Homo sapiens: one gene and its partners. The protein of the gene in region 3 purifies or fractionates together with the protein of the main gene of each other region. This does not show direct contact. Each region holds a gene or a part of one and is shown on either strand. Other genes may lie near its edges. The genes, in order: C10orf88, NCS1 and SSX3.

Region 1 (3,655 bases), on a different chromosome or scaffold from region 3:
TATGGTAGTGCTGTGTATTTTGAAGTGTTGGGAAATTGAGCAAAAAACATTTTTAAAAACTATATAAACTGTGATGGCAAAAACCCATTTATAAAAGAACAAAATTAGAGAAGTTTCAAGCAAGAGAACCAATAAGTTAAAGGGATTGGACTGTTGTCTTCAGCATGAAAAATATTGTTAAGGTAACTGTTAGTTATGTCTTCAGAGTCTAGGGATAAGGTAATGGATTGGAAGTCTTAAGCCCTGAATGCTAATTCAGTTCTGTCCTGACTAGTGGATTAGTCTTGGGCAGATTTTGGACCTATCTCATGGGTAAAATTAGAGAGCTGAAGAAAATTCTTGGATTCTTTTTATCTCTAAACTTCTGTACTTATTATCATTACTTATAGAAGATTGAAACCTATTTTTACAATAAGAAAAAATAAGTGATTTTTACAGGCAGATAGCAAACTCACAGGACTGATTATCCCAAGATGTTGTTTTGGATAGTATATATTAAATAGCTTCTAAAACCATTTGAATAAAGTAATTTCTTCATTCAACAAAGATTTGAGTGCCTCTTAATGTCAGGTACTATACCAGTCATTTAGGAATTAGCAATAAGAAAATAAACTGAAATGCCTGAACTTATGTTGCTTGTATTCTAGTGGGCAAGACAGACAATAAGGAGACTCAATGAGTAAAATAAATACTATATTTAATGGTGAAAAAGGCTATGGGGTTAAAAAGAGAAAGGGGGATAATAGAGAGGTTGAGAGGTAGGAGGTTAATAAGAGTGTTTCCTTAAAATGTTGAAGACAGTCACATCTTTGGTTCAACACTTAAGAGTTCTTGGATCATGAGTCTGTATTGACCTATGTCCTTGTTTGACATGTGGACCTGTGTGTCTCTCTGAAGGTGAATGTTTTTTTAACTGTTCAATGGAGGTACATGGGAGTGCAAAGGGTTATTTCAGGGAAGCTCTAGGATTGATATGAAAGCTTGTTCTGAGGCAATAGTATATGGAAGTTCAAATAAAAAAATGGTTACTTATACAGGTTTTTGAGCACTTACTTACTGGTAGCTACTGGAAATTTTAACATATAATCCTCGCAACAACTATGTGAAATCATTGCTACTGTCTTCTCTCATTTTTATCCTGACTCAGATTTAGCATTTGCCCAGGGTCACACAGGTTGTTAAGTACCAGAGTCGTAAGTTAAACTTAGGTTTGTCTGATTCTAAAGTCCGTTCCCTTTCCATTTTGCTACTCTGTTGTCTGTACCATACATGAAATGTCTCGTTTCAGAAATATGGACAGGATAAAATGTTGGATAAACTACAGGGATAGAAGCCAGAAGAGATAGGTTTCAAGCTGGTTCTTTACTAATTGAGTGTCCTTTAACAAGTTAGAAAAATCACCCTTGAAGTCATCATTTCTATGTGTAATCCAGCAAGCTATATTACATCATTTTGATATTCTCTTATAGTTCTGAATTTGAAAGGATTGCATTTTACTTATTTCAGTAAACGTTTTACATGAGCATTTGGACAGACTTATTTTGTGTTAAGTAGCAAGTTGTGGTGTGTTAAGGTCTCAGATTGGTATATAGCAGTTCTCCTTTATCTGCAGTTTCACTTTCCACAGTTTCCATTACCCACAGTCAACTGAGGTCCAAAAATATTAAATGGAAAATTTCAGAAATAAACAATTCATAAGTTTTAAATTGTGCTTCATTCAGCGTAGTGTGATCGAATCTCCTGCCATCCTGCTCAGTCCTGTCTGGAACATGAATCATCCTTTTGTCTAGTATGTCCCTGCTGTATATGTTACTGCCCATTAGCCACTTACTAGCCAAATGTATCATCAGAAGGTCAGTAGTAGCCTAATCCTGTATTACAATGCCTGTGTCATTCACCTCACTTCATCTCATTATGTAGGCATTTTATCATGTCACGTCATTACAGGAAGGGTAAGTATTGCACAGTAAGATTTAGAGAGAGGAGACCATATTCACATAACTTTTATTATGTTGTCAAAATTACTCTATTGTTAAACTCTTACTATACCTAATTTATAAATTAAACTTTATCATAGGTATGTATGTATAGGAAAAAATATAGGGGTTGGTACTATATGCAATTTCAGGGAGCCACTGGAGGTCTTAGAACACATTCTCCACAGATAAAGAGGAACTACTATAGTTTATTTTTAGTTCTTTAAATAGGTAAACATTTATTTAATCACCTCATTTGTTATTTTACATGAAGTCTTAATTTTTGAAAGGACTCTTATTTAAATAGTTCATCTGAGCCTCATGATAAATTGGAATTTTTCCTGACTATTGCTGTTCTAGAGAAAAGTTTAAAATATACTTGAAGTTAATTTTTAGATTCTTGAATACTTCACTCTTGTTTAGGTCATACCAAGAAGTTACATTAAATGATTATTGTTTTTAATATCATTCTTTTCTGGAACTTTTGTTTTATAATAGTTGCTCTCCTTTGGCGAAAGGCAGTGTGTGTTCATCAGTAAAGTTGTGGTACACATGAGATCAGTTTTTGCAAATTCTTCAACAAGCTCTCCTGCTCTAGGATCAAGGATAGACCTTGACAAGGTCCAAACCATAATGGAGTCCATGGGGTCAAAGTTATCTCCTGGAGCTCAGCAGTTGATGGATATGGTTAGGTGTCAGCAGCGGGTAAGTAGAAATGGATTTCTTTCCAGATAACATTAATGATTTCAAAACCATTGCTTTTAGTAAAGAAATGTAGTGACTTAAAATTTTTCTTTCATACTGATTTAACTGTTATCTTTTAGTTTTGTAGAAGTTAACATTTGTTAGATTTGCCCTTCTACAAAGTGTTTTGACTACACATTTTCACACTTTTTATGAATGCATTCATTCATTCAGCAAGATTTTTTTCTTGCAGTAAACAAGGCACTGGTTTGAGCAATTTTGAGTGTGCGAAGATGGTCAGTTAATCTGTAGTCTTTAAGAATTTTTACATTCTGGAGCATGTAAGTGGGGAATGATGAAAACACTAAGGAAAGGCTCACTAAAAGAAGTGGTATTTTATCTAGGCCTTTAAAATGTAGGGTGGGATTAGACAAGTAAATTTGGAAGAAGGCCATTTCAGACAAAAAATAAGGTGAATAAAATCTTCAATGCTAGAAGAATTTGATATAGCTGGGAAATGAATGGTAGTTCATTTCTCTGAAGCAAAAAAGTAATAGGCAAAGTTTAAAGTAGATTTCAGCTAGATCATAAACAGCTTGGGATGCTGGTTTAAATTTGTAGATGTTTTTGACTTATGTTTCAAGAAATTTTAAGCCACTGTCAAGTGTAAGGTGAATCTGAAGAAAGTGAGACTACAAGGAGAAGATGAGCTGCACGTCATTCCCCTCGTCCAGATGAGAGTGAATGAGGTCTAAGATTGGACGTAGTAACATAATGCTGGATGCTAAATGATGCTAAAATGATGGAGCCATTGGGACTTGACAGCTAACTTAATATTGGTATTATGATAGAAAAATCAAGTTAAACATGAAATTGAGGCTTTGAAGATGGTGATACTAATAATATAAATGCAGCCCAAAGGAGGAGGATGCTTGGAGGAAAAAGGAATTTAATTTTGGGAACATTGACTTTTAGCTGTGAATAAGACATTCCCT
Region 2 (3,655 bases), on a different chromosome or scaffold from region 3:
CTTTATTTATGCAAAAGCTCCTCCTCTCAATGCACTATTTTATTTTCTAATGTTGACTGTAGCAGGCCACACCATAATTGTGGGAGCAGAGTGGACTGTGGGGAGGAGGTGGGGGCTGGAGTTGGGGGAAGGAGAGGGGTGCTCCTCTGGGTAACATCCCAGGCCCCGGGCTCTCCCACGCACTCAGCTCCAGCCACTGATACCTCGGCCCTGGCAGCCCAATGCCCCATCCCTTTATTTTATTTGTTTATTTATTTATAGACAGAGTCTCGCTCTGTTGCTCAGGCTGGAGTGCAGTGGCACAATCTCGGCCCACTACAATCTCTGCCTCCTGGGTTCAAGCAATTCTCCTGCTTCAGCCTCCCAAGTAGCTGGGATTACAGGCATGTGCCACCACACCTGGCTAATTTTTGTGTTTTTAGTAGAAATGGGGTTTCGCCATGTTGGCCAGGCTGGTCTCGAACTCCTGACCTCAGATGATCCACCCACCTTGGCCTTCCAAAGTGCTGGAATTACAGGTGTGAGCCACCGTGCCTGGCCCTGTTATTTTTAATATATATATATATAAAATATTTAATATATATATAAAATATCATATATATATATATATATATATATATATATATATATAGAGAGAGAGAGAGAGAGAGAGAGAGAGAGAGAGAGAGAAAGAGAGAGTCTTGCTCTGTCACCCAGGCTAGAGTGCAGTAGTTCGATCTCGGCTTATTGCAACCTTCGCCTCCTGGGCTCAAGCCATCCTCTCACCTCCTCCCAAGTAGCTGGAACTACAGGCGCCCGCCACCACACCTGGCTAATTTTTGTATTTTTAGTAGAGAAGGGGTTTCATCCTGTTGGCCAGGCTGTTCTCCAACTCCTGACCTCAGGTGATCTGCCCGCCTCGGCCTCCCAAAGTGCTGGGATTATAGGGGTGAGTCACTGTGCCTGGCCCTGTTATTTTTAATTTATAAATAAATAAATATATATATACACATAAATATAAATTATGTATATATAAATATATATACATAAATATAAATTATGTATATATAAATATATATACATAAATATAAATTATGTATATATAAATATATATACATAATACATAAATATAAATTATGTATATATAAATATATATACATAAATATAAATTATGTATATATAAATATATATACATAAATATAAATTATGTATATAAATATATATACATAAATATAAATTATGTATATAAATATATATACATAAATATAAATTATGTATCTATAAATATATATACATAAATATAAATTATGTATCTATAAATATATATATGTGTGTGTGTATATATATATACGTATATATATATGTGTATATATATATACGTATATATATATGTATATACAGAGAGAGAGAGGGAGAGAGACTTGCTCTGTCACCCAGGCTGGAGTGCAGTGGCTTGATCTCGGCTTATTGCAAACTTCGCCTCCTGGGCTCAAGCCATCCTCCCACCTCAACCTCCCAAGTAGCTGGAACTACAGGCACCGCCACCAGGCCTGGCTAATTTTTGTATTTTTGTAGAGACGGGGTTTTGCCATGTTGTCCAGGCTGGTCTCGAACTCCTGGGCTCAAGCAGTCTGCTCACCTCAGCCTCCCAAAGTCCTGGGATTACAGGTGTGAGCCACCATGCCCAGCCTTATTTTTTTTAACCCTAGTTGCAATGGTGTGTGTGTGTCTGTCCCTGTCTATCCTGATGTAAATATTAGTTGACCTGATGAGGAATGGGCCATCCGGTCGCTGACTTCATGTTGGGGTACAGAGAGGAGGGGCGAGTTGAAGACCCCTCCCCACTGCCCCAGCCCAGGATCACTCAGCAGTGCTGCTTGCTTACAGGGGCCTTCAAGCTCTACGACTTGGACAATGATGGCTACATCACCAGGAATGAGATGCTGGACATTGTGGATGCCATTTACCAGATGGTGGTGAGAAGCCGGGTCTCGTGTGGTTAGGGGTGGCAGGAGGGGCAAAGCCAGTGACTGAGAGACAGAGAGAGAGCACTTGTGCAGCCATGCTCCTGCCCAGGGTGGAAGCAGGGGTCACTGGCTGAGCCGTTCTGTACATCTCTGCCTGGGCAGGCAGGCACAAGCTGGTAGATAGTGGGGCTGGGGTGTGGGATGTTCCAGGGCACAATGGCAGGGATGGGGAGGGGAAAGAAGAGGGGGGCGGCCCTCATCTGGAAACTGCCAGGTCTGGGGGGCAAATGCGTGGCCAAGAGCCCAAAGCCCAGAGTGCCAGGGCCCACCCCCGCCTTGTCCGTCCCTGCAGGGGAATACCGTGGAGCTCCCAGAGGAGGAGAACACTCCTGAGAAGAGGGTGGACCGGATCTTTGCCATGATGGATAAGGTGAGGTGGGGGGGCGGGGCTGGTCCTGGACCAGGGAGGCAAGGTGTCGGGGGCAGGAATTGGAGTCCCTGGATCCTGGGCCTGGCTTTGCTGCCAACCTCCTCCATGGCTCACGGCAGGCGGCACGGTGTCCTATCCCTGCTCAGCAGCTAGCCCCATCCAGTGTCCAGAGTCTTAAGTCAGTTTGCTCAGCATGTTTTCTTTAATCAACCAGAGTCCTTAGCCTTTTTTTTTTGTTTGCCATGGACCCCTTTGGCATTCTGGAGAAGCCTACAGACTTCTCAGCATAATGGCTTTAAGCGCATAAAATAAAATCCATAAGATCAAAAAGGAAGCTGATTATTTTAGAAAACAGCTGTCAGAGTATTTTAAAAAAAGAATCTGTGATGTAGCGTTCTGTGAGCTGCTTTCTTAACGCATTCACTAAGATGTAGTGGTGGGTCCAGCAACCCCCGAAATTGCGAGCTGTAATATCTGCAGCAACTAGGGTGTGTTATGAAAATACCTGTGATCCCTACTGTCGACAGATCACAGGTACTGCAGGTCCTGTTGGGGACCGTCGCCTAGGTTTCCATCAAAGGAAAAGCTACATTTCAGTTAGAGGTTAGTAAAAAAAGGCTGATTTTTTTTCCCCCAAGTTCATAGACCTGCTGACTTCTATCCACAGGCCCAAGGTTAAGAAACCCTTCTCTTTTTTTTTGAGACAGAATCTTCGCCCTGTCACCCAGGCTGGAGTGCAGTGGCGGGCGCGATCTCGGCTCACTGCAAGCTCTGCCGCCTGGGTTCACGCAACTCTCCTGCCTCAGCCTCCCGAGTAGCTGGGACTACAGGCGCATGCCACCATACCTGGCTAATTTTTTGTATTTTTAGTAGAGACGGGATTTCACCGTGTTAGCCAGGATGGTCTCGATCTCCTGACTTCGTGATCCACCAGCCTCGGCCTCCCAAAGTGCTGGGATTATAGGCGTGAGCCACCGTGCCTGGCCAAGAAACCCTTCTTTAAAGGGAACCAAAGCCAGGTGTGGTGGCTCACACCTGTAATCCCAGCATTTTGGGAGGCCGAGGCGGGTGAATCACCTGAGGTCAGGAGTTCGAGACCAGCCTGGCCAACATGGTGAATCCCTTTCTCTACTAAAAAAAAAAAAAAAAAAAAATCCGGGAGGCAGCAGTTGCAGTGAGTGGAGATCGCGCCATTGCACTCCAGCCTGGGCAACAGAGTGAGACGCAGTCTCAAAAAAAAAAAAAAAAATTATCCAGGCATGATGGCACATGCCTGTAA
Region 3 (3,655 bases):
ATTCATATAAAATTTTAAAACATGCAAAAGAAGAATATATATTTTTATGGATAATAAGTAAATGGTAAATGTATACAAACATGAATGTGAATAAAAAGCCATCAAACTAAGGTGACTGGCTGTAAGTGGAGGAGGGAGGGAGGGCAGGGATTGCTGAGTGCTGCACAGACAGCTTCAGCTGTGACTTGTTGATAGTGTGTTTTGTTTGTTTTTGTTTTTGAGATGGAGTTTCACTCTTCTCGGCCAGGGTGGAGTGCAATAAGGCAATCTCAGCTCACTCCAACTTTCACCTCCTGGGTTCAAGTGATTCTTCTGCCTCAGCCTCCCGAGTAGCTGGGGTTACACGCACGTGCCCCCACACTCAGCTCATTTTTTAATTTATGGTAGAGACGGGGTTTCACCATGTTGGCCAGGCTGGTCTCAAACTTCCTGACCTCAGGTGATCCACCCGCCTCAGCCTTCCAAACTGCTGGGATTACAAGTGTGAGCTACCACGCCCGGCCTGTTTGCAGTTTTTCTAATATTCTGAATAAATAAATCAGACCTAACTTAGCTGTGGGGTAATGTTGAGATCCGACTGGACTCAATATTATTCCCCATACTTTTCTGTGTGTTTGAAATATTTCTTTTTTAAATGACATGTTGTTCTTCCTAAGCACTGTTAATGTATCAAAGGACAGTTAAGAAAATGTTACAAGTGAAAAAAAAAAAAAAGAAAGAAAGTGTTAAAACTGTAGATCCGCCAAAAACTTCCAGAGGTTGTTTCATTAACAGCATGTAGGTATTGGATAGGTATCTTAGGAGTGAGGTTGATGAACACATTATGTAATAAAGATCGCTGTTTCTCTGTATTTTATCAAAACCAAATAGTCTTCTCATTCCCAAATAACCCTGATTCTCTGTGATGAGCTTGAAAGAGAGTTTGAAAGAGTGATCCCTTATCGAAAACACAGAGAGCTTTCCCACTTGTCAGAGAACAGAGATAACATAGGATGAAAAAAAGACAGGTTCTTGGGTAGAGAGCTTTGTGCATTTCAGGAAAATAAAGGGGACATATGTATTTACTTGCTCTTCTACTCTGACAACATAATTATAAGACAAGGTCAGAATGTCCAAACCGTCTCCAATAGACCTATTACTCGCCAACTAAACAGGCCAGATTCTACAATCTCCCGCAATCACTATAAGAGATCTGAAAAGCCAGTGCTTGAGTATCTGCCAAGTTTTTAACGTTAAAGGACTGTCTTTGTACTGAAAATCTTTCAGAGCCACTGGACCAAATCATCCGTGGTTCACCACACATTTAACAGCTTAATTCACATACCATAAGATTCACCCATTTGAAGTGTACAATGATTTTCAGTTGTTGCACATCTTGAGTGGATACAGTTCAGATTCCTAACCAATCAATTTAATTATTTGGGAAAAAGTAAAAGATATGTAATCGAATAAGATGAGACTGTGATGGGGTGTAGTCCCCATGTGATAAACCATGAGATGGAAAATTCTGAATTGATGCCACAGATAAATGCATCAACCATGACTAAACATAATTCAGAAGCAAATCTGAAATAACTCCTCAACAATGCGTGGACTCATAAGCCTCTGCTGCAGAATACCCTGATGCGACAGAAGTCTCTCTAGAGTTTGGAAACCTTTACCAACAATGAAAAATTCTGATGTATTCTCTTTCAGTTCAACGTCCTCAGATGACTTTCGGCAGGCTCCAGGGAATCTTCCCGAAGGTGAGTATCTTTCAGATCTAAAGGACCAGAGAACCTTTGTCCCTCCAAGGATGCGAACACTGGTAAGAGTGGGAGAATATCAACAATGCCCTCACTGCCTTCTTCTCCCCATGTCTATCACAACACCTGATGTAGCACCGACGGCTTGATAGTACCAACATTTGTGATTGTTCATACCTCTTTTGTTTTCATAGTGATGCCAGATACTATTTCAAGCAGTTCACATGGATTAATTTATTTAATCCTTAAGAAGACATTGTTTCTATTATCTCCGAATAATAATGAGTAACACATTTCAGTTTTCATCCATATGATAGCCATATGACTTGGCACAAATCTTCTGAGTTCTCTGAGCTCCAGATTCCTGGTCCATGAAATGGAAGTAAAGAATTATAGTTTATGTTTTAGATCATAGTTATCAGCAACATAATAATAAAATGAGGCTATCGTGGTACAGAGATGTTAAAGAATTTTCCTGAGGCGCAGTGTCAGTGGTAGTCTAATCCAGAGCTCCAAGCCATTTAAAGCTCATTCACGTTTGCATTTGTTTATGAAGTTCAGATGTTGCTCACTAGGGCTTCACCCCATAGGGCCTGCTGGTGCTTCCATTGAGACACCCACTCTCGCAACAGGAAGGACCATCTGGTCTCTGCTGTGTTACTGGGGCCACTTGCATGGCTTAGGAATCGCTTTGATTGTTGGCCCCTCCCTACTGTGAGCTCCTTGAGTGCCTTGTCTGCACCTGGGGCGTCTGGGAAGCCCCAGTCCCAGCCCAGGGGATCCCTCGGAGGCCCCTGAATGAGTGATCCCACAAGTGCAGATTCAACTCTGGTTTGGAGGGTAAAGGGATCTGGGAGTTGGGTTGCCAGTGTGGAGACTGAATTCAAAGAAGGATTGTGAAAGGTATTAATTGTTATTATTACTACATTTAAAGAGTGTTTACAAGCTCAGAGAGCACTTTCTTGTAGCCTATTTTACATGTATGGTTCACTATTTCATAAGGGAGGAAGCTGAATTAAAAGTAGCTTAAGATCAGGGCGCGGTGGCTCACGACTGTAATCCCAGCACTTTGGGAGGCTGAGTCGGGCAGATCACAAGGTCAGGAGATCGAGACCATCCTGCCCAACATGGTGAAACCTCGTCTCTACTAAAAATACAAAACTTAGTGGGGCGTGGTAGTGCCTGCCTGTAGTCCCAGATACTCTGGAGGCTAAGGAAGGAGAATCGCTTAAACGCGGGAGTCAGATATTGCCTTGAGCCGATATCATGCCACGGCTCCCCATTCTGGCGACACAGCAAGACTCCGTCTCAAAAAAAAAAAAAAAAAAGAAAAAGAAAGCAGCTTAAGATTGTTGGTCAGTACACATCCCAATGCAACCAGAATTGGTATGGGTACCACCTCACTGAATTCCACATTCAATTGGTGCCTCGGTAGGGTAGTATGTCATATCTGGTACTGCTTTGTTTGCTGCCTAGATTAATTTCAGCAAGCCATTTATTTCCCTCTCCCTTCCTTGTGTTCATCTCCCCACACCATCTTTCCCAGCAGTGTTTTGTCGCCTCCCTATGTTTTTACATTTACTCTCCCAGCAGCTGTCTACAAGCTTATATGGGATCCCTTGTATTTTACAGAACCTCTTCCCTTTGTAGACCTTGTGAATTCTTAGAATGCTACTCTTCTCCAAATCATCTGTATATCACACTCTCAATTAAATGGAGATTTTTGCTGTTTGCAAGAATGTGAGTCCTAAAAGAGTGGGAAGATAAGCATTCTATCCCTGGAAACCATATTCACTTAGGCCATTCCTTTCCCTTCTAACCTCCCCTCCCAGGTTTCTCCTAATTTAGGCCTGTGTAACTCTCCCAGTGTTGTTGAGAACATTGAATAAGCTAATGCATGTGAAGACCCT

What was found.
Region 1: the proteins of SSX3 (region 3) and C10orf88 purify together in Homo sapiens (affinity purification with mass spectrometry; one large-scale study listed by BioGRID and IntAct). This does not show direct contact.
Region 2: the proteins of SSX3 (region 3) and NCS1 purify together in Homo sapiens (affinity purification with mass spectrometry; one large-scale study listed by BioGRID and IntAct). This does not show direct contact.

Annotation. Positions count from the first base shown.
Region 1 is NC_000010.11:122,947,675-122,951,329, reverse strand, and holds part of C10orf88 (ATPase PAAT), read left to right. Parts: intron 1-2,474; coding exon 2,475-2,681; intron 2,682-3,655. UniProt on the Homo sapiens protein: ATPase that regulates mitochondrial ABC transporters ABCB7, ABCB8/MITOSUR and ABCB10. Regulates mitochondrial ferric concentration and heme biosynthesis and plays a role in the maintenance of mitochondrial homeostasis and cell survival.
Region 2 is NC_000009.12:130,220,784-130,224,438, forward strand, and holds part of NCS1 (neuronal calcium sensor 1), read left to right. Parts: intron 1-1,866; coding exon 1,867-1,955; intron 1,956-2,298; coding exon 2,299-2,376; intron 2,377-3,655. UniProt on the Homo sapiens protein: Neuronal calcium sensor, regulator of G protein-coupled receptor phosphorylation in a calcium dependent manner. Directly regulates GRK1 (RHOK), but not GRK2 to GRK5. Can substitute for calmodulin. Stimulates PI4KB kinase activity.
Region 3 is NC_000023.11:48,350,190-48,353,844, reverse strand, and holds part of SSX3 (protein SSX3), read left to right. Parts: intron 1-1,695; coding exon 1,696-1,745; intron 1,746-3,655. UniProt on the Homo sapiens protein: Could act as a modulator of transcription.